Regions from separate parts of the Homo sapiens genome. Here regions 1, 2 and 3 are each linked to region 4. Evidence: fine-mapped expression QTL. A gene starts in region 4. Each other region holds a variant in brackets. All regions are shown on one strand. Distances are between the middles of the regions. Region 1 overlaps SLC9C2 (solute carrier family 9 member C2 (putative)). Region 2 overlaps SLC9C2 (solute carrier family 9 member C2 (putative)). Region 3 overlaps SLC9C2 (solute carrier family 9 member C2 (putative)). Region 4 holds the start of PRDX6 (peroxiredoxin 6).

The links. PIP is the estimated chance that this variant, and not a neighbour inherited with it, causes the effect.
Region 1: its variant is the best candidate, but not a certain one, in a credible set for the expression of PRDX6 in whole blood (TOPMed, PIP 0.57).
Region 2: its variant is the best candidate, but not a certain one, in a credible set for the expression of PRDX6 in whole blood (TOPMed, PIP 0.84).
Region 3: its variant is the best candidate, but not a certain one, in a credible set for the expression of PRDX6 in whole blood (INTERVAL, PIP 0.61).

What each region holds. Positions count from the first base shown.
Region 1 is chr1:173,568,104-173,573,256 of GRCh38, forward strand. It overlaps SLC9C2 (solute carrier family 9 member C2 (putative)), which reads right to left. Exons shown (of 28, transcript NM_178527.4): 9 at 5,079-5,153. Among named protein-coding and RNA genes, the nearest start is that of SLC9C2, 32 kb to the right of the region's middle. The variant C/T (reference allele first, on the strand shown) is at 2,466.
Region 2 is chr1:173,535,442-173,540,594 of GRCh38, forward strand. SLC9C2 (solute carrier family 9 member C2 (putative)) reads right to left here. Exons shown (of 28, transcript NM_178527.4): 14 at 1,501-1,598; 15 at 389-508. Among named protein-coding and RNA genes, the nearest start is that of PRDX6, 61 kb to the left of the region's middle. The variant T/C (reference allele first, on the strand shown) is at 2,614.
Region 3 is chr1:173,516,108-173,521,260 of GRCh38, forward strand. It overlaps SLC9C2 (solute carrier family 9 member C2 (putative)), which reads right to left. Exons shown (of 28, transcript NM_178527.4): 23 at 1,430-1,597. Among named protein-coding and RNA genes, the nearest start is that of PRDX6, 41 kb to the left of the region's middle. The variant G/T (reference allele first, on the strand shown) is at 2,678.
Region 4 is chr1:173,474,594-173,479,746 of GRCh38, forward strand. It overlaps PRDX6 (peroxiredoxin 6), which reads left to right and starts at 2,742. Exons shown (of 5, transcript NM_004905.3): 1 at 2,742-2,899. The coding sequence starts at 2,805. LOC100506023 (a long non-coding RNA gene) reads right to left here and starts at 2,562. Exons shown (of 3, transcript NR_037845.1): 1 at 2,039-2,562. RefSeq lists enhancers at 1,747-2,283, 2,781-2,940 and a silencer at 2,541-2,710.

The sequences.
Region 1 (5,153 bases), 94 kb after region 4:
TTTACACACCACAATTACAGCGTTTTTTAAATATTTTATTTTAGGTTTGGGAGTACACGTGAAGGTTTGTTACATAGGTAAACACGTGTCACAGGGGTTTGTTGTACCTATTATTTCATCATGAAGGTATTAAGCCCAGTACCTAATAGTTACTTTTTCTGCTCCTCTCCCTCCTCCCATCCTCCCACCTCAAGTAGATCTCAGTGTCTGTTGTTTCCTTCTTTGTATTCGTAAGTTCTTATCATTTAGCCTCCACTTGTAAGTTATAACATGTAGTGTTTGGTTTTCTGTTCCTGTGTTAGTTTGCTAAGGATAATAACCTCCAACTCTATCCATGTTCCACAAAAGACATGATCTCAGTCTTTTTTATGGCTGCATAGTATTTCATGGTGTATATGTATTACATTTTCTTTATCCAATCTGGCATTGATGAGCATTTAGGTTGATTCCATGCCTTTGCTATTGTGAATAGTGCTGCAATGAACATTCACGTTCATGTGTCTTTATAGTAAAATGATTTATATTCCTCTGGGTATATACCCAATAATGAGATTGCTGGGCCAAATGGCAGTTCCTCTTTTAGCTCTTTGAGGAATTGCCAGACAGTGTTATAATTGTCCATGATTTTCCATGTACCCACTATTACCAGTAAGTCTGTGTCCTGAAAATTTGTTGAAATTATCATGTTTGATAGGTTCATCTTTTAGTCTTTCTATTCAAAATGTGAGTAGTTTACCCACCACAATTACAGTGTCATAGTATTCTATGTTTTTGTGTGTACCTACTATTACCAGTGAGTTTTATATCTTCTGATGATTTCTTATTGCTCATTAACATCCTTTTCTTTCAGATTGAAAAACTCCCTTTAGCATTTCTTCTAGGAAAGGTCTGATGTTGATGAAATCCCTCAGCTTTTGTTTGTCTGGGAAAGTCTTCATTTCTCCTTCATGTTTGAAGGATATTTTCACAGATATACTATTCTTGGGTAAAAGTTATTTTCCTTCAGCACTTTAAATATGTCATGCCACTCTCTCCTAGTCTGTAAGGTTTCCACCGAAAAGTCTGCTGCCAGACTTTTGCCTTTTGTCTCCTCTGACTGCATATTTTCAAATAGCCTGTCTTCAGGCTCACTAATTCTTTCTTCTGCTTGATCAATTCTGCTATTAAGAGACTCTAATGCATTCCTCAGTATGTCACTTGCATTTTTTATTCTAGAATTTCTGCTTGATTGGTGCTTCATTGTAAGTGGCTTCTTTTCTGCTTTTAGGGTCCTTTCTTTATCCGTGATCTTTGGCAGTTTGATTATTAAATGCCTTGAGGTAGCCTTCTTTGGGTTAAATCTGCTCAGCGTTCTACAACCTTCTTGTACTTGAATATTGATATCTTTCCCTTGGTTTGGGAAGTTCTCTGATATTACCATTTTGAATAAACTTTCTACCCCTATTTCTTTCTCTACTGCCTCTTTAAGGCCAATAACACTTAGACTTGCCCTTCTGAGGTTATTTCCTAGTAGGTGTGCCGCATTCTTTTTTATTCTTTTTTCTTTTGCGTCTTCTGACTGTGTATTCTTGAATAGTCTGTCTTCAAGCTGACTAATTCTTTCTTCTCAAGCAATTCAGGAGAATCGCTTGAGCCCAGGAGTTCAAGACCAGCCTGGGCAACACAGCAAGACCCTGTCCCAAAAAGAAATAAAAAATAAAAAGTAGTATGAAAAGCCTTAGAAATCTGCCTGGTGTTCTATTCTATTGTGATTACGCTGGTATTCAAACCATAAGACAAAGTTCTTCCCACTCTTTCCTCCTTTTTCCACAGGCAGGAAAGCCTCTCCCTATGGCCACCACTACCACCAGTCCCAAGGGAGTTCTGCCACACCACCACCCATGTTCACTTAAGGCCCAAGGGCTCTTCAAGCCAGCTTTTAATGAATGCTGCCAGGCCTGGGACTCACCCTTCAGGGCAGAGGTCTCCCCTCTGGCCCAGGGCAAGTTCAAGAATGCCTAGGCCTGGACTTGGGACCCCAAAAGCCTACTTGGTGTCTACCCCACTGTGGCCAAGCTGGTACCTGAAGCCAGCACATCTGAGTCTCACCCAAGGCCCACAGCATACCACCTGTGTATTGCTGTTATTTACTCAAGGCCCAAGAGCTCTTTAGTCAGCAGGTGATGAATCCTGCCAGGACTGGGTCCTTCCCTTCAAGACAGCAGTTTCTCTTCTGACCCAGGGTGTGTCTAGAAATGTTGTCCAGGAACTAGAGCCTGAACTGGGGGCCTCAAAACTCTGCCCAGTGCCCTATTCTGCTGTGGTTGAGCTGGTATCCAAGATGCAGGACAAAGTTCTCTTCACTCTCCTCTCCTCAAGCAGAAGGAAGAAGTCACTTTCATTGTTCTGAGCTGCGCTGCTTGAGGCTGTGGGAGGGGTGGCACAAATACTCCCCAAGCCACCCTGTCTGCTGTCTCACTAGGTCA[C/T]GCACTGCCCCGGTCCACTGGCTCTGAGACCAGCACAGCATCAGGACTTGCCTAAGAATTGCAGTCCTTATATCCTAGGCTGCCTTCCAAGTTCACTTAGTATCCCACAGCTTGCTGAGAAACTCAAGTTTCTACCACGGGAATGGGTGCTTCCCCTCTGGCTAGGGCTGGTCTAAATGTTCCCTCTGTGGGCAGGTGCTGGCTGAGTTCAGCACAGTTTTGCTTTCCACTGTCACAGGGCAGCACTAAGTTCAGTGCAAATTCCCCCAGTTGCTGTGGTCTCCCTTCCCCAAGTGCACAGATTCTCTCTCTGCACCACACAGCTGCTTTGTGGTGGGGAGGACTGGGGAGGGGTGGTGTCAGCAATCCATGACTGTTTTTCCTACCCTCTTTAGTGCCTCTTTCTGCAATATGAATTTTAAAGTAGGTACTGTGATCACTCACTTGATTTTTGGTTCTTATGAAGGTGCTTTTTTGTGTGCAGATAGCTGTTAAAATGTGGTGTTCCTGCAGGGGGGTGAGAGGGATGATCAGTGGAGCCTTCTATTCATCAGCCATCTTGCTCCATCCTCAGTAAACATTTTAAAAGCTAAAATGCCCTGACTTTATTCCCCTTCACAAATCCCATTCCCCAGAGGAAAGTAACCACTCTTACGGGGCTGATGTACATCCTTCCAGGTGTTTTCTTAACTCACAAAGGTATTCATACGTGGGTTCTTTCTCTTACTTTTTTTCATACTTACCTATCTATCCTCATCTCCTGCTCTCCCCTCTCTCTGTTTCAGTGATCAAGGCCTCCCTGCTGTTTATTGCACATACCAGGCTGGCCCTTCCCTTAGGGCATGTACAATTATGAGTCTTTCCCCCCATCTGCCTGGCTCCCTCACCTCTTTCATATCTTTATTCAAATGTCACTTTCTCATTGAGGCCTACCTTGCCCACTGGGTTGAATTGCAGCTTGCCATCTAGTGCTGGCACATCCAACTTCCTCACCATGCTTTATTTATTTTCATAGTCTTTATTATTTTCTAATATATTATATTCTTCATTTAACATGATTTTGGTTTTTTTTCTGAAAACCCCAATTACATTGTAAACTCCATGATGGCAGAAATTTTCATGTTTTCAGAGTATTTTGTCCACTGAGGTGTCCTAAGTGCCTGGAACAATGCCTGACATTTAGTAGGTGCTTGATAAATATCTGCTGAAAGAATTAACAAATACAGTGGTGGTTTGTTTTCATGTTTTAATTTTATTAATAATGTTTTGTTTTAAAACCTACTGATAATTTCTTTGGGGAATCCTTTCATTATTCTGAAGCTTCAAAAGTTGTGTCTTATCCTGAGAAAATAAGGATAGCCACAATCATGGCAAAAACTCACTTCACTGAGCATTTACTATGTGCCAGGCATGGTGCTAAATTCTTGTACTTGCATTACCTCATTGAATCCTCACAGCAACCCTCTGAGATGATCTATTATTATGCCCAGTCTACAGATAAGTAATTGAAACTTAGATTAAGTAATGACCCAAAGTCACATAGTTACATAGTCACAAAGCTAACAAGTGTGGGAGATGGAATTTGGATCCAGAAATAAACATAAACACCTAAATTATACTAGGGAGCAATGACTAACTTAAAAACTGTTTTTTAAGAGTCCAGACAGAGAGGCAGAGAAAAGATGATAAGATGGCTACTGATTTCACAGCTGCATGGGAACAGCAGGTAGGCACCAATTTAGGCCCCACTCTGATGAGGTGGGGGATAGGGGTAGCACTCAGGGCTGTGTACACAGCCTTCTGTGTGAGAGTGACTATCTGAGTTGCATGCAGTGCCTTGCGTTAGCAGACTCAAGTTTCCATGGGAACATACTATAAGACAAGCTACCCTGGCCACCATCCTGAGTGAAAATGACAGTGTTTTTGGAGACATTGCCATAAATTCTTATGGAAGACACAACTACCATCAGTGGGCAATGCCATTCTAGAATAAGGATGCTCATGGAGTCAGGTTTAAATACCAAATTTGCTCTTATGAGTTGAGTGACTCTAGGCAGGTTTTTACATTCTCTGGGCTTCGTCTGTGAAGTGATGCAATAACACATACATCACAAAGTGATATTCACATCAATGGCATACAGTACATGGTAACTGCATTATCACAGCTATTGGTACATAGCATGATAGTGGCTTTCTCATAGCTATTGACGATAATAAATTATGGTGAAATTCAACAAAAATGTTAAGAGCAATTAATCTGGTCCAGTGATGCTCAACTTTAACATGCATACAAACTACCTGAAGAGCATGTTAAAACTATTTCCTGGATCTCATATTTAGAGATTTGATTCAGTAGGTTGAGATGGGCTCATGAATATGCATTTCTGTCTAGCTTATGGGTGACGCCGATCCCTCTCATTTTATGGATAAAATCTTGAAAAATAAACACTTACCCCAAGTTGCACAGCAAGCTATTGTCAAGGCCTTGATAACAATGCCGGTTTCCTGGCTCCATGTCCAGAGCCCTTTTTGCTGTATGCCACTGCTTCCTAATTCTAATTCTGGCCTTGAGAATCTCAGTTTAGTAAACAAACTTTAAAATATTATTCTTACCTTACCAAATTCACTGTTGTAAATAAAATGAATATGAAAGGTATAGTGTGAAATTCATAGTGGCTGAGTTCTCCA
Region 2 (5,153 bases), 61 kb after region 4:
ATAGATCAACAGAATCACACAATAGAACAGATGAAATTAAACAGAGCTAGATCTAGTCTACCAGTTAGCTATTTCTCACCCCTGCTCTATGTTATATCCAGAAGAATATTAAGCAGCCCGCAACACACTACAACCCTCAGACACAGCAATTAAAACTTGAAGGATCCAAATATGAACATCCTTTTTCCCTTCCTGACTACTCTCTCATAGAGATGTCAATGAAGTTGCTAAAATAGAATGGAAGAAGAGAAGCAAGCACCACCCAATCAGTGAAAATAAACCATAATATAGTTTTTCTCAAATAAGGAAAATTGAGATAAGCTATTATGACAATGTAGAAATGGTAGTATTTTCAAGTATGTTTCTATTAAAGGTTCACAATACTTACTCAGGTGGAATAAAATGTATCTTTTCTATACAATATTCCAAGAAAGTTAAAACATTTTTAAACTTTATAAGCCAACTTCTAGTTCTCATATAAGTTGAAACATCATAAATACTCATGAATCTAACAGAGAAAAATGTACATATGTGTTATAATAAAAAGCAAGTGCTATACTTTGGGTTAATATAAAAGGGGAAGGTGTACTAAGTATAAATTTAATATGGACCCACCAAATAAGCTCAGTCTCATGCCTCTGCATCCATCCACCTATCCATCCATGGTCATGGTACAGGAGTAGTTTTAGCATGAGACTCCTGCTGCCTCTGTTCCTGACCAGAGGTTGAACATAAGTAAAGCTTCTCTAGACCATTTGGAGTTTGGAATCAAGCTTTCCTTTGTCATGCTGGTCTGGCCCAACCCTCTCCAAGGCCCTGAAAGCTCTAACTTTCCCAAACTTTATTCCAGGGACTGGTAAAGATCTTCCAAATAGATTACCTGGCTGCTGAAATGTTATCTATCACCCAGCCAGGATCTCCTATTATTATTGCCCCACAGCTTTGTGTTAGATCATCTATTATCTAATGTTTGCCAGGACTGTAACCAGATATTGTTATATCTCCAAGATACTGAGCTTTTCCCACCAGACTTAATTGCACTTGTCAGCACCAGCAGTTGGGTCAATTCTTCCAGAGCCTGCTCCACCCCAGGGAGCAGTCTAATGGCAGCCTCCAGGCTTCTAAACCTCCTCTGTCTGGTAATTTAAAGTGAAGATAATATAAAGGCAAAATAATTATAATAGTTATTGAGGTTATATAAGTTCCCTTTCATGGATTCCCGAGTGTCTTATCTAATTACATGACAGTCCAATCTTTCTCCAGACTCCCCTAATGTCACCAAGGTTATAAAACTTTAGAGGAAAAAAATAAACCAATAAAATAAAAAGCAGATGGATAGATGGATGGAAGGACAGACAGATGGACAGACAGAAGATGGATACATACAGATATGTGAAATAATAGATTGATCAATCAGGACATTTAATTCTCATTTTATTCATTCTTCATCATATAGTCATTCAATTTTGGAAATATCAATTAAAGAAGTGTTATACTTACTTTCCTTGGATGGAGTAATAGCATTTTGCTGCACCAATTAATATCCGGGCTGCCTCTATTTCAAGAATTCCATTGTTACGCTGTTTTTCAAAGCTACTCTAAACATACATTAAATGAAGATTACAAAAGATCAAAACATAAATGGAATGTATTCTTCTTAACCCTTACATAGCCCTCACTATTATTACTGAACTCAATATATCAAAATATGCCATTACAAAAAATTATGTAGTAGGAAATAAATATCATTCAATGCAAATGTTTACAGAATACTCATTTTTATAAAGTATAGTCCTGAATGTTATGAGATAAAAAGGGTCTTAGCTTTCTAGAAAATCAAAATGTATGCCACTCAGCCAGGCATGGTGGCTCACTTTGGGAGGCCAAGGCAGGGGGATCACTTGAGTCCAGGAGTTCAAGACCAGTCTGGGCAACACGGTGAAACCCCCCATCTCTACCAAAAATACAAAATTAGCCGGGCATGATGGCGCATGCTTGTAATCCCAGCTACTCAGGAGGCTAAGGCAGGAGAATCGCTTGAACCCAGGAGGCGGAGGTTGTGGTGAGCCGAGATCATGCCATTGCACTCCAGTCTGGGCAACAGAGCAAGACTCCGTCTCAAAAATTTATATGTGTGTGTGTATATATATGTGTGTGTATATATATGTATATATATGTATATACACACACACATATATACGCATATTATATATACAACTCAAAGAGTTTACTTCAGTAATATAAATAACATCAGTAGCATCATCTTTCTACAGCAGAATAGAGAGTGCAAAGTATTAATTCTAAGTGTAACTAATCATTTCAGCCCCACAAAGAACTATCAAAAGAAAAAGATAGGCTGTATTGTTGTGTCAATCCTCCCCCTAAAATAGCAGAAAAATTATAGCTTCTACATGACACTGACATTACATTCAGAGGTTAGCGTTACCTCCTGGAACTGCTGCCTACATTTCCTCACATACTGACCATACACTTTGCCTATCCATTGTTTAGAAATGTTGACTCCAACCACTACTGCATTTAACACATTTTCTCAAGTCTTAAAATTTGAGGGATGATAGTCATTTCAGGAAAGGAGAGAATTCACACCACTTA[T/C]ATCTCAAGACAATTCTCATTCACTCATTAGCTCCTTTTCCAGAAGACAGAAAAATTATCCACCAGTAACAGCTTTGATAAAGGATATGCAAATTCTGAAACTGCCTTCCAAACGGTATGGGGCAATGGCCAGGCTCTCTCTACTCTGAGGGCTACTGGAGCACTTAGTGGATTTCCCTACGTTGTAAGCCTCCGTGATGGCCCTGGTAGGATGTCCACTGTGAGAAAACTATGTCCCAGAAGTTCAGTCCTGAGGCCTACCTCCAGTGTTTACACTTGCAGTTTTTCCGGCCCTGCCCATCAAGAAGTAGGCCTGGATCAAGAAAATTATGATTTACTAATATGATGGATTGTTTATTTATTCATTCATCCTTTAAACAAATGTTTATTAAATGCCTACTCTGTTCCAAGCCCTGTTTTAGGGCAATGGAGGTATAGTCCAAGGCTTTAAGGGGTTCACAATCTAGTGGGGCAGGGGAAAAGTTAGATGCTTATATGATAAAACAGGAAATTAAGGGGATAACATTCAGCACAGGGTGTTAATCAGACTTGATGTAGAGATGGGATCAGAGAGAGTTTCTCTTGGAGGAGATGATACTTCAACTGAGTTTTAAGGAGAAGTACAATTATCCAGATGAAGAATGGTCGTGGGGCGAGCAGAGTGAAGAAAGAGGTAGGCAGAGGGTGGCATCTCTAGTGCACGTACAGAGGTGAGAAACAGTATGCTGAGTGCAGTAAAAAACAAGTTGTGGGGCAGAGCATCAGTTAGAGAAACAGTCAGAGGCCAGATTTTAAAATACCTTGTATATTGTGCTTTGACTTAATATCATAGGTAAACTTTTCTTGGAATGTGATATACACATTCTGTGAGATACTCCTTCAACCCCAATCCCTGAAAAACTATGCAGGGCAGGGGAAAGGGTAAGAAAATGTTGCATTCTATAGTCTCTCTTGGAGAATCTCAATGTATATCAGCATATTAAAAATTCTGAAGAGTTCTACAAGAAGTTCTAAAAGAAACCCATTTAACTTTATTTAAGCCACCATTTCCCAAACTAATTTGAGCATGGAAACTTCTTTTTTCATGCAGTTTCTATTAGCATCCCATGGAACAAGTGTTCTTTGAAACTCACAATGGAAAATGTAGGCACTGAGGAGTCATTTAGGGTTTTAAGCAGGAAGGAGGTATAGTCACATGTCTTTTAGTAAGTCACTATAATTTGAGAATGGAAATATTGGAGACAAGGGGACCAATTGAAAGTTATCGTCTGGACAAGAGATTATGACGGCCTAAATTAAGATTCACAAGAATGGAAAGGGGTGTATTTGACAAACATTTAGAAGGTAAGATTGATAGAGCTTGGAGAAGGATAGAGGAAGAGGACTGACTCCAGCAACCAATGGTCTAATTCACTAACACTTGGAATATAACAGTAGGCTTGGGATGAGTTCAATATGGATTTGAGGTAGAGTGAAAGGAGAAGCTGTCTAGCCACCACTGGATTCATGAGTCTAAAGAGCTGGTGTTGAAAGGTATGGAAGGAAGATTACAGATTTGTAGAGCATCTATGCATAGTGTTAAAATCATGAGTGTAGCTGGGACTAAAGAAGGAGAGACTATAAAATAAGAACAGTGGACAGAGTTAATTGTCCTGAGGTGCACCAACATTAAAGGGTTAAAAAGAGTTCATAGAGGAGACTGAAAAGGAAAGGGGTCATAAACACAGGAAGAATGCCAGAGTAGAAGGTACTCTTAGGAAAGCTATTCAAAAATAGCATGCAGCAAGTCCTTCCATGGGATTGTTGGTTTAAAAAAGTAAATGTGGTAGGTCATTATAACAATGACTGCAGTGTGTCATGCCTCTCTGTGTCCATGCCCACTTTGCAATTGGCATCGCTGTTTCCCCATTAAGAGGTGTAATCTACTTTTCTACTCATTGACTCTGGACTGGTTTTGTGATTTGCTTTGACTAATAAAATGGGGGTAAAAGTGACATTGTTCAGGCTCCAGAGCCTGGAACTTAAGAGGCTTTGTGGCTTCCCCTCTCACCCTGTTGGAACCCAGAGACCATGCTGTGAAGAAGCCCAGTCCAGCCAACTATACAGAATAGGCCATAGAGGGGAGAAACAAAGCACCCTGGAAGACAACTAGCATCAGCTGCCAAACCTGCGAGTGAGGACATCCTGGACCCTCCAACCATAGCTGATCTAGGAAATGACCACAGGCATAAGAGTGATCCAAAGCGAGACCAACAATAGAATCACCTGGATTGCCAACACACAGAACCATGAGAAATAATAAATCATTGCTTTAAGCCACCAAGGTCTGGGTTGCTTGGTTAAACAGCAGACGCTGACTAAAACAGGAAAAATCAGTATCAATTGTGGAGAGCCTCCAGAAATTAAAACATACTGCATTAGCTTTGGAACTGGGTGGTGGGCAGAGGGTAGGGGGGCAGTGAGAAGACTGTTAGTGGAAGCTGGAAGAGCAGTGGGGAAACTGTAGCAGGAGGCTGGAGGGAGGCAGCCATGCTATCAAA
Region 3 (5,153 bases), 42 kb after region 4:
CTGATAACCCCTATTGGAGGGTATCACCCAGTTGGGTGGCACAGGGAGCAGGACCCATTTAACGAACCACTTTGTCCCTTGGTCTTTGGCTCATTTCTATTTGAATTCCCCACACCTAGTGAAATGTCAGGACACTTAGGTGTTGAATAGATAACTTCTTACTTAGCAAATGAAACATAGAAGGAAGTTTAAAAACAAACAAGTATTCCTTTTTTAAGTTTTAAGTTCAGTGGTACATATGCAGGTTTGTTACATAGGTAAACTTGTGTCATGAGGGTTTGTTGTACAGATTATTTCATCACCCATGTATTAAGCCTAGTACCCGTAGTTATTTTTCCTGATTCTCTCCCTCCTTCCACCCTCCACCCTCCAATAGGCCCCAGTGTGTTTTATTCCCCTCTCTGTGTCTGTGTGTTCTCATCATTTAGCTCCCACTTATATGTGAGAACATGTGATATTTGGCTTTCTGTTCCTGCATTAATTTACTAAAGATAATGGCCTCCAGCTCCATCCATAGTTCCTGCAAAAGACATGATCTCACTCTTTTTTAGGGCTACATAGTATTCTATGGTATATATGTACCATGTTTTCTTTATCCACTCTATCATTGATGAGCATTTAGGTTGATTCCACGTCTTTGCTGTTGTGAATAGTGCTGCAGTGAACATACATGTGCATGTGTCTTTATAATAGAATGATTTACATTCCTTTGGGTATATACCCAGTAATGGGATTGCTGGGTCAATGGTACTTCTGTCTTTAGGTCTTTGAGGAAACGTCACACTGTCTTCCACAATGGTTGAATTAATTTATACTCCCACTAACAGTGTGTAATTGTTCCTTTTTCTCCACAACCTCTCCAGCACCTGTTACTTTTTGACTTTTTAATAGCAGCCATTCTGACTGGTGTGAGATGGTATCTCATTGTGGTTTTGATTTGCATTTCTCTATTGATCAGTTATGTTGAGCTTTTTTTCATATGCTTATTGGCCACATGTATGTCTTCTTTTGAAAAGTATCTGTTCATATATTTTGCCCACTTTTTAATGGAGTTGTTTTAAAAACAAATAAATATTCTTTAAAAACACTGTTGTCATAATGGTGACCATTTATTGAGCACCTATATGTGTCAGGCATTTTACGTAGATGTTTTCCTAATCCTCATAACATCAAAAGGTTGGTATTCTCTCTACTTCATAAACAAGGACACTGAGACTTAAGGAGGTTAAATAACTACTCCCTTAGGCAGGATGCAGTGGAGCTTGGCAGAGCCTGGGATGTGAGACACTAAATCTGCCTTTTCAGCTATGTTACCTCCCAATAGCTGGTTGGGTGACTAAGATGTCAAAACCCCAAAAAAGAAAAGATGCTGGTATTTTTTATTTACTTGAAGAATAATTAATAACTCATGACAGAACCATTTTCCTACCTGTAAACTAGTTTCACAGATGACGGTATATTCAATTTCACGCTTAAGCAGACAGCTTAGCTCTCCAATTATGTCCCCAGTAGTACAGAACTCTGTAAACATGTCTCTGGACCCTCTATCACACCTTTGATTACTCTCTATTCCAAAGGTAGGAGATAAACTATGCAACTGCAAAGGGAAAAAAAGTGTGCAAAGGGAAAGAAAAAATGAAAAACCCTTTGATCAAATCATAGGAGCTCCCACTATTTCTTACAACTTTCCAATGGAAGGGAAAGATCTCCTGTCAGGTGTGAAAGAAGAATTAGGCTTAAGAAAAAAAAATCATGATTTCTTTAACATTTCAACTCCCCAAGGCAAGGATTTTTTTCTAATCTTTAGTTTTACAGATGACCCCTATTTACAACTTTCTACTTATACCTGTCTTATACAAAAATCCCACCAGGGCTGGGCGCAGTGGCTCACGCCTGTAATCCCAGCACTTTGGGAGGCCAAGGCGGGCGGATCACAAGATCAAGAGTTCGGGACCAGCCTGGCCAACATGGTGAAACCCCGTCTCTGCTAAAAAAAAATACAAAAATTAGTCGAGCATGGTGACGCATACTTGTAGTCCCAGCTACTCAGGAGACTGAGGCAGGAGGATCATTTGAACCCAGGAGGCAGAGGTTGCAGTGAGCCAAGATCGTGCCACTGCACTCCAGCTGGGCGACAAAGTGAGACTCCATCTCAAAGAAAAAAAAAAAAAACCCACCAAAACTGGAAATTATAGTATGCAACTAATGCAATCACTCATTGAGTCCATTAGATATTCTTACCGCAATGGGCTAATGCATCAGGTGGAAATAACTTTTGATTGCATGGGCACATAAATCAGATATTATGAATTAATATGCCTCCAAACCAAGCCATGATGTTAATGAAAGCCTTGTCTCTTTTTAAAATGCTTTAGAAAAATTACCATGCAATATCAACAGGAAAAGGTTTTAGGATGAACATAGGATGGTTGAGTTACTTCAAGAAAATAACTGGTAGGCATAGCTGGAGAAAGAACCGCGGTATCAGATTTTAGGGGGAAGCTGAAAGAATTGGGATTAGAAAGATTACAGAATTTTTCAGAAAGTTTAGCTGTAAACATCAAAGAGGAAGGTTCTTGTTCAAGACACAGGAAACAGGAAGCAAAAGGTCATTCTCTCCCAGCAATTAGCATTCAGACTTTTAAAGGCATTCATGCTTCCAGAAGAGTTTGAATTT[G/T]TTTTTAATGGCTGTAATTTTGAATGCAATTCAAAGGATCTTTGAGCAATGAAGAATGCCTCTGCTTTTTGCAAACAAAGAAAAGATGATGGCATTTGAGGTAGGCAGCATTCTAAAGGAGGCCCCCCCAAGATTCCTGTCTGTTGTTCAACCAAATACTAATCTAGGGACTGCAGTGAAGGGACTTTGTAGTGGAATTAAGGTTGCTAATTGGCTGACCTTAAAAAGATGATTTTTGGAGTTAAGGCTACTAATCAGCTGACCTTAAAAAGATCTACAAAGTCCCTTCACAGCTGTACCAGATTAGTATTTGATTAAACAACAGACGGGAATATTGCGGGGACTGTAATCACATGAGCCCTCGCAAGTAGAAGGGAGTCCATCAGAGAGAGATGTGTGAAGGATTCCATATGCCTTTGCTTGCTCTGAGATGTGAGGACCTGCATGCAAGGACAAAAGAGAAGCTCTAGGAGCTCAAGGTGGGCTCCAGCTGACAGCCTTGAAGAAGCAAGGACTTCTGTTCAATAGCCGTAAAGAATAACTAGATCTGCCAACAACCTCAAAGAGCCTGGAAACAGATTGTGCCCTTAGAGCTTCCAGAAGGTAACATAGCACTACTGACATCTAGATTTCAGCTTCTTGAGACCCAAGCAGTGAAATCAGCAGAACCCATTGGATTTCTGACCTACACAGCCATGAGATAATATATTTAAGCACTAAATTTGTGGTAATTTGTTATGGTATCAAAAAAGTACTAATATAACCTCTTCAGACCAGACATTATTGGACTATAGTTTAAGAAGGTTTAGCTAGTCCAGTCATGGCAGGAAAATCCCCAAAGAAACATGTTACAGCAAGTTGCAGCTTTTAAGTATCGGACTTGCCGTATTTCATAAATACTGGCAGCAGTGTGTTTGTCCTAGAATTCTAATGGGAGTATAGTATAATGGCTAAGCACATGGATACTGGAGACAGACTACATGGGTTCAAAGTAATCTTTGGCCTCTGAGTATGTGTAGTTGGGGCCAAGTGAATTTTTTTTTTCTGTTCATCAGTTTTCTCATGTAAAAAATAGGGTTGTTGGCCTGGTTCGGTGGCTCACACCTGTAATCCCAGCACTTTGGGAGGCCAAGGCGGGCGGATCACTTGAAGTCAGGAGTTCAACACCAGCCTAGGGAAATCCCGTCTCTACTAAAAACACAAAAATTAGATGGGCGTGGTGGTGCGTGCCTGTAATCCTGTAATCCCAGCTACTTGGGAGGTTGAGGCAGGAGAATCACTTGAACCCGACGGACAGACCTTGCAGTGAGCTGAGATGGTGTCACTGCACTCCAGACTGAGTGACAGAGACTGTCGCCCAGGCTGGAGTGCAGTGGCAGGATCTCGGATTCTCATGTCTCAGCCTCCTGAGTAGCTGGGATTATAGACATATGCCACCATGCCCGGCTAATTTGTGTATTTTTAGTAGAGACAGGGTTTTGCCATGTTGGCCAGGCTGGTCTCAAACTCCTGCCTCGTGATCCACCCACCTAGCCCTCAAAGTGGTGGGATTACAGCTGTGAGCCATCATGCCCAGCTTATATTGCCTTTCTCGACTACCTTTTAAAAAATCACAACTAATCTCTTCATACCTCCATCATCTGTAACATACTGTAAACTTACTTGTTTTGTTCATTGTCCCATCTCCTTTTATCCCTCTACTAGAAATTAGGCTCCAAGAAGGCAGGAATTTGTGTCTGTTTTGTCAATCCCATGCCTAGAATTAACAGTGCCTGCCACATGGTGGTAATGAAGCAAACATTTTGTTGAATAAATGAGTGAATGAATGAATGAAAAGTGCTTAGAATAGTGCCAGATAGTAAATAAGTGTTATATTGTGTTAGTATTCTATTTATTATGGTAGTTTATTTCCATGATATTTTAAGGTCTAATATACCCGTTTCAAAACCAGAAAGCCAATGGTATTATTTTTGCCATATTAAGGATTTGTCATTTTATGACCATCATCCAGGATCTAGGAATTATTTGGTTCACAAAATGGGGCTCACGCATGAAACCAGCTACTAAACTACTGTTATGCAGATACAAAGGATTCTTGTCCCCATCACTCTACTGAAATCTCTCTCCCTCTCTCTCTCTCTGTCTCTCTCTCTGGTCAACAAAAGCCTCCCATGAGACAGATTAAAAGCTGTATTTTTGATCCTCATTCTATTTCCTTTAGGTGAGTAATTTAAGCCACGCCAAGTATTGATTTCCTTCTCTGAACATTCTGAAAAATCCTGCTTCCTCCCAGGATTGCTGGAAATAAGTAAAGACTATGACAGCATTTTGTAGAATGGGAAGCACATTTCAGGTGTTGAATATTCACCTCTCAGCTGTCATGCTCAGAGTAGAAATGGTTTCATCACATTAAAAATTTAAACTTTTTCAGTATCTAAATTTATTCTTATTCTACAATTACATGTTTCAAAATACA
Region 4 (5,153 bases):
ACTCAAGGTTTAATGGATTTAGGGCTACGCAGGGTGTGCTTTGTTAAAAATGTGTTTGCAGGCAGTATGCTTGGTAAAAGTCACCGCCATTTTCCAGTCTCAAGTACCCAGGGACACAATGCACTGCGGAAGGCCGCAGGGACCTCTGCCCAAGAAAGCCTGGGTATTGTCCAAGGTTTCTCCCCACTGAGACAGCCTGAGATATGGCCTCGTGGGAAGGTAAAGACCTGACCGTCTCCCAGCCTGACACCAGTAAAGGGTCTGTGCTGAGGAGGATTAGTGAAAGAGGAAGGCCTCTTTGCAGTTGAGATAAGAGGACGGCATCTGTCTCCTGCTCATCCCTGGGAATGGAATGTCTCGGTGTAAAACCCGACGTACATTCTATTTACTAAGATGGAAAAAACCGCCTTATGGCTGGAGGTGAGACATGCTGGAGGCAATACTGCTCTTTACTGCACTGAGATGTTTGTGTAAAGTCAAACATAAATCTGGCCTATGTGCACATCGAGGCATAGAACCTTTCCTTAAACTTATTTACGACACAGAGACCTTTGCTCACATGTTTTCCTGCTGACCCTCTCCCCACCATTATCCTATAGTCCTGCCACATCCCCCTCACCGAGATAGTAGAGATAGTGATCAGTAAATACTGAGGGAACTCAGAGACCAGTGCCGGGTCCTCCGTATGCTAAGCGCCGTCCCCCGGGCCCACTGTTCTTTCTCTATACTTCATCTCTGTGTCTTATTTCTTTCCTCAGTCTCTCATCCCACCTGACGAGAAACACCCACAGGCGTGGAGGGGCTGGCCCCCTTCAGTGGACAGCTAATTCAAGACAATTTAAAATGCTCCAAAGTCTAAAGCAAACAAGTTCACAGAGTGCAGAAGCATTGCCAGTGTACAGCTTCTGGCACTGTAAATTCTAATGAGTATTTTATTATATTTGCTTAATTTACAACAGACAATAATATAATTATGCCTTTGACAGACATCAATAATCTGTTTCTGTATTCATTCTCCATATTTATAGAGTATTGTGTTTTCTAGCTGATTTCCACAACATATTGTTAACAGTGCCTTAGGCCAAACTACTCTTCTTTCCCAACTATTCTCTTTCTTCCCTACAAAGGGAGTTAAAACAAGGAGCTGTTAAAACTTGGAGCCAAATTAGAGATTAAATTACATTAGCTTTAAACGGTTTTGTGAAGTGGCTAGAAATTTTTACCAGTAATCTTACTGCAAGTCCTGGGTCACTGAAGAACTCGGTAAATATGATTAGCATGCACGCACCAACACATCACTGTGATGAAAACGCAAATCACAGTATGTGAGTCACTACTCTCAACATTGCCATGCCCCTGCCTTAAACCTGCCAGCCCCATCCAGAGGATTTTTCTCATCTCTGAACTCCAATCATTTACACCTTCCCCCATCAGAATTTACCCTACATTTTATTATAATTGCATATAAATATGCCTTCCCTGTAACAGCAGGGACTGTGTTTCTCCACTGTATGGCCTGGCACAGTGTCCAGCACACAGCAGGCAAAGCAAGAGTTACTGCATGAGCCAGTGTCATCATCCAAACGATAGCTACCATTTCCAGAGCACCTACCGTGAGCTGACTAGTTTACCTACATTATCCTGGTGGCTTTCCCAGACCAGACCACCCAAACCAAAGCAGCCCCCCAGTCACCCTCTAGGCACATAACCCTATTTTAGTTCTCTGAATACGACTGATTGCTGTCTAACATATTTTGGTTTGTGTGCTTATTGTCTGTCACCGGTTTCCCTTCACAAGAAGGAAAGCTCCAAGAGGACAGGCATCTTATCTACCTTGTACTTGGCTCATAGCAAATAAATGAATCTAAGCCGCCCACCTCCCTGGGTGACAGAGTTGACCTGCACACAGTAGGTCTCAAAGAGTATGTTTTAAATTTTATATTTAGATTTCAAGATAATTGTGTTGAATATTTTATGGTTCATAACAAACAGAAAGGGGAGGGCAGAATAAAAATAAATAAAAGTTTAGTTACATTACCCTAGCACTGACATTGGTACGGGAATTTTTGCTGCAATAAGAAAGCCACTTCCTCTGACATAAGGTCACCCATACTTCTGGGTCTTGCCACATCCTCTTAGACAGTTCATCGTAGCTGGGCTGGCTGGGGCGGTCAGGACTCCAGACGCTCACACTAAAAGAGGGGTGGTAGTCGAGCAGTCACTCCACTCCTCTGTAGGGAGCTGGCCGCGAGTGGGTGCGCAGCAGGGTGCGCGCGGACCCGTGCAGCGCCCAGGGCGGCTGTGCGAAGCCGCCGCAGCCTGCGCGCCCAGGCGATTCTCCACCTTGGGGCTCGCCTTCCTGCCGCGTTCCTCTTCCTTCCATCCCTAAAGCGCGTACGCCCTGCAGAGTCAAACCTGGCGCATCCTCAAGCTTCCAGGGGGCAACGTGACCGAGCCCCGCATCACGTGTGCAGAGACGGCCTATAGTGTCTGAAGGATGCCACCTAGTCGCAGGCCCGGCGGCGCCACCAACAGCGACCGCGGTAGTCCAGCTCGCGCCGCGTCCCGGCCCCAGCCCGGCCCGGCCCAGCCCCGCCCCGCGCCCAGCCCCGCCCCGCCCCGCGCCCAGCCCAGCCCCCGCGGCCCGGCCCCCAGCGGCCGGCCTCCCGCGGCCCCGCCCCCGCCGCCCCAGTCCCCGCCCCTCGCGCCTTCGTTTATTCCTCCGCGCGCTGGGACAGGCTGCTTCTTCGCCAGAACCAACCGGTTGCTTGCTGTCCCAGCGGCGCCCCCTCATCACCGTCGCCATGCCCGGAGGTCTGCTTCTCGGGGACGTGGCTCCCAACTTTGAGGCCAATACCACCGTCGGCCGCATCCGTTTCCACGACTTTCTGGGAGACTCGTAAGTGGCCACCGCGTAGCCCTGTCCTGGCCTCGGTTGCGCCGGACTCGGAGGTGCCTTCCCTGTTTCTTCTCCCTGCCGTCCTCCCGGCCGCTCAGCCCCCTGCGCCGCCCTCGCCTTCCCCCGCACTGGTTCCGGCGCGCGCCAGGCCGTGTGGCCTCTGCTCAGCGTCGGCTGCGCTGCTGGGAGCTGGCACCCGTTCGGCCTGCCCTGCGCGGGCCACTCGATCCCTCCTGGCCTCCCCGCCTCCGGCGTGGCTGGGCAAGGCCACGCCAAGGTGGGGGGTGGGGAGGATAAAATTGTGTTCTGCGGGTTCTGGAAACTCACCGCCCGCGGGAGGGTTTGTTGTCCATTTAACTCGTCTTAGTAAACTGTGCAGGTAGCGTGGTCAGGCCGAGGGCGCAGGGGCGGGGCGGCATTGACGATCACTTCCCCGGACTAGTGCCCAGGGTCGCACCGCCCTCCCACCCTCCGTTCTGGAATTTGCTCCCTGGGGAGGATGGGTGTCTAAAGCCAAAGTCGGAGGACACAGCTGCTGGCTATAGGTTACAGGAAGGCCAACGTATCATCTGAGGGTGCAGTGGTATTTGCAGGCTTCTGGGCACAAAATGTGAAATTTAAAACCACTAGCTGCCAAGTAGGTGGCCGAAAGACTTTTTGTCCAGAGCCGCCTCCAATGGCCAAGATATGATTTGATAACAGCTTTAGGAAGAGCCAAGAACACTCTGCGTAGGTGTGCCTTCAGAGATTCCAGAACTTGCAACACTTGGAGGGAAGGACTTTCTGACGCTGTTCCGCTGGAGTGGCCTATTCTTGCTAGTGATGGCCGTTCCAGGCTCCAGGACACGTGTACTCCCCAACTTTGAGACTCTCTTGTTTTCCAGTGGCTTGCCCCTCACTGTCCCCTCCGCTTTCTACCTTGCTTCTAGCACATGAGCTTGCTGATGATAGCCAAATTGATGACCTGTGATCTGACTTGGCAGTTTTACCATTATGGATAGGAGTAGTAAATCGGTGTTGCCCTTTTTTTTTTTTAACAGCTCCTGAATCAGCAAACTGGAAGTTGCTTAGTTTTCATCAGAAGCATTCCAGGCATGTCTAGTTATATTATGGTTCTGGAGTACTAGTGGTCCCACTACACTGTGGGGCTCCAAGGCTTGACAACAGTTCTTCCCCAGATTATATCCTTTTTATATACAGTATCCAGGGAGACAGGCTTATGAAATTAATCAGTGATTGGACAGGGCTGTGCAGAGAACCAGGGACAGATTCTTACACATCATATGCCTATCCAACCCTTTATAACCTCTTAAGTCCCTTTTCCAGCCACTGAATAGGGAAAAGTTAAGCTTTGTGAAAGATAGGACTAGGCCAGAAAAAGGTTGAGAAATGGAATATTCAAACCTTGAATGCAGAAAAATACTTTAGAAATACAGCTTATGGCCATTCTTATACTTAGGATCTAGGTAGTAATATTTCTCCAGCAATCCTTGGGATTTTTAGAGTTGTGTTCCTTCCCATTTCTACCTGCAGCCCTCATCCCCCATCCCCATGAAACATAAACTATTTCCAGAACTCTTAGCTTGTATAGATTAAATATTAGCATAAAACGTATTTACTGTGCCAACAGTTATAAATGCTGTCACTTTTTAAGCTAACCATACTTTTTTGGGGTTTTGTTAATGTTTATTGGCCTCTAGATCCATCTAGATTTGATCAAAAGTGGTACTTTATCAGGGAGCCATAGTTAGGAACACGGTAGAAATATCTGCATTTATTAACTAATATACAAGTCTGCCTAGGATCAGGTATAGTATTCCCTACCTTACCGGGAAGAGAAGTTTGAGCCTTTTATATGTTTATAACACATGGATTTTTGCCTGATTTTTCCAATTTTCTATTCTGTATATGATCCCAAATCAGACTGTCAATTTTTGATCCAGGTATTTTTGAGAAGAAAAAATTAAAATGTATTTCTCTACCTTACCCCTGATCATTGTAAACAACTAAAGAGGTTGGGTGCTACATTGGGTGAGTTTACCTTATCGCTGTTTCTTTAAGTGGTAGAAGCAGCTTCTTCATAGTACATCTTCACTAAGCAAAATATGTGTTTTCCAGGGGTCTTCTGGGGCTTAGTAAGTGGGAACCATTCTCTTGAAGGAGGAAACCTTTTGTCTTTTGAAAATGGGTAAGAAAATGGGAGCATGTCACTGAATTACTCTTAAGTGCAGCAGTAGGAAGACTTGGAGGGGAA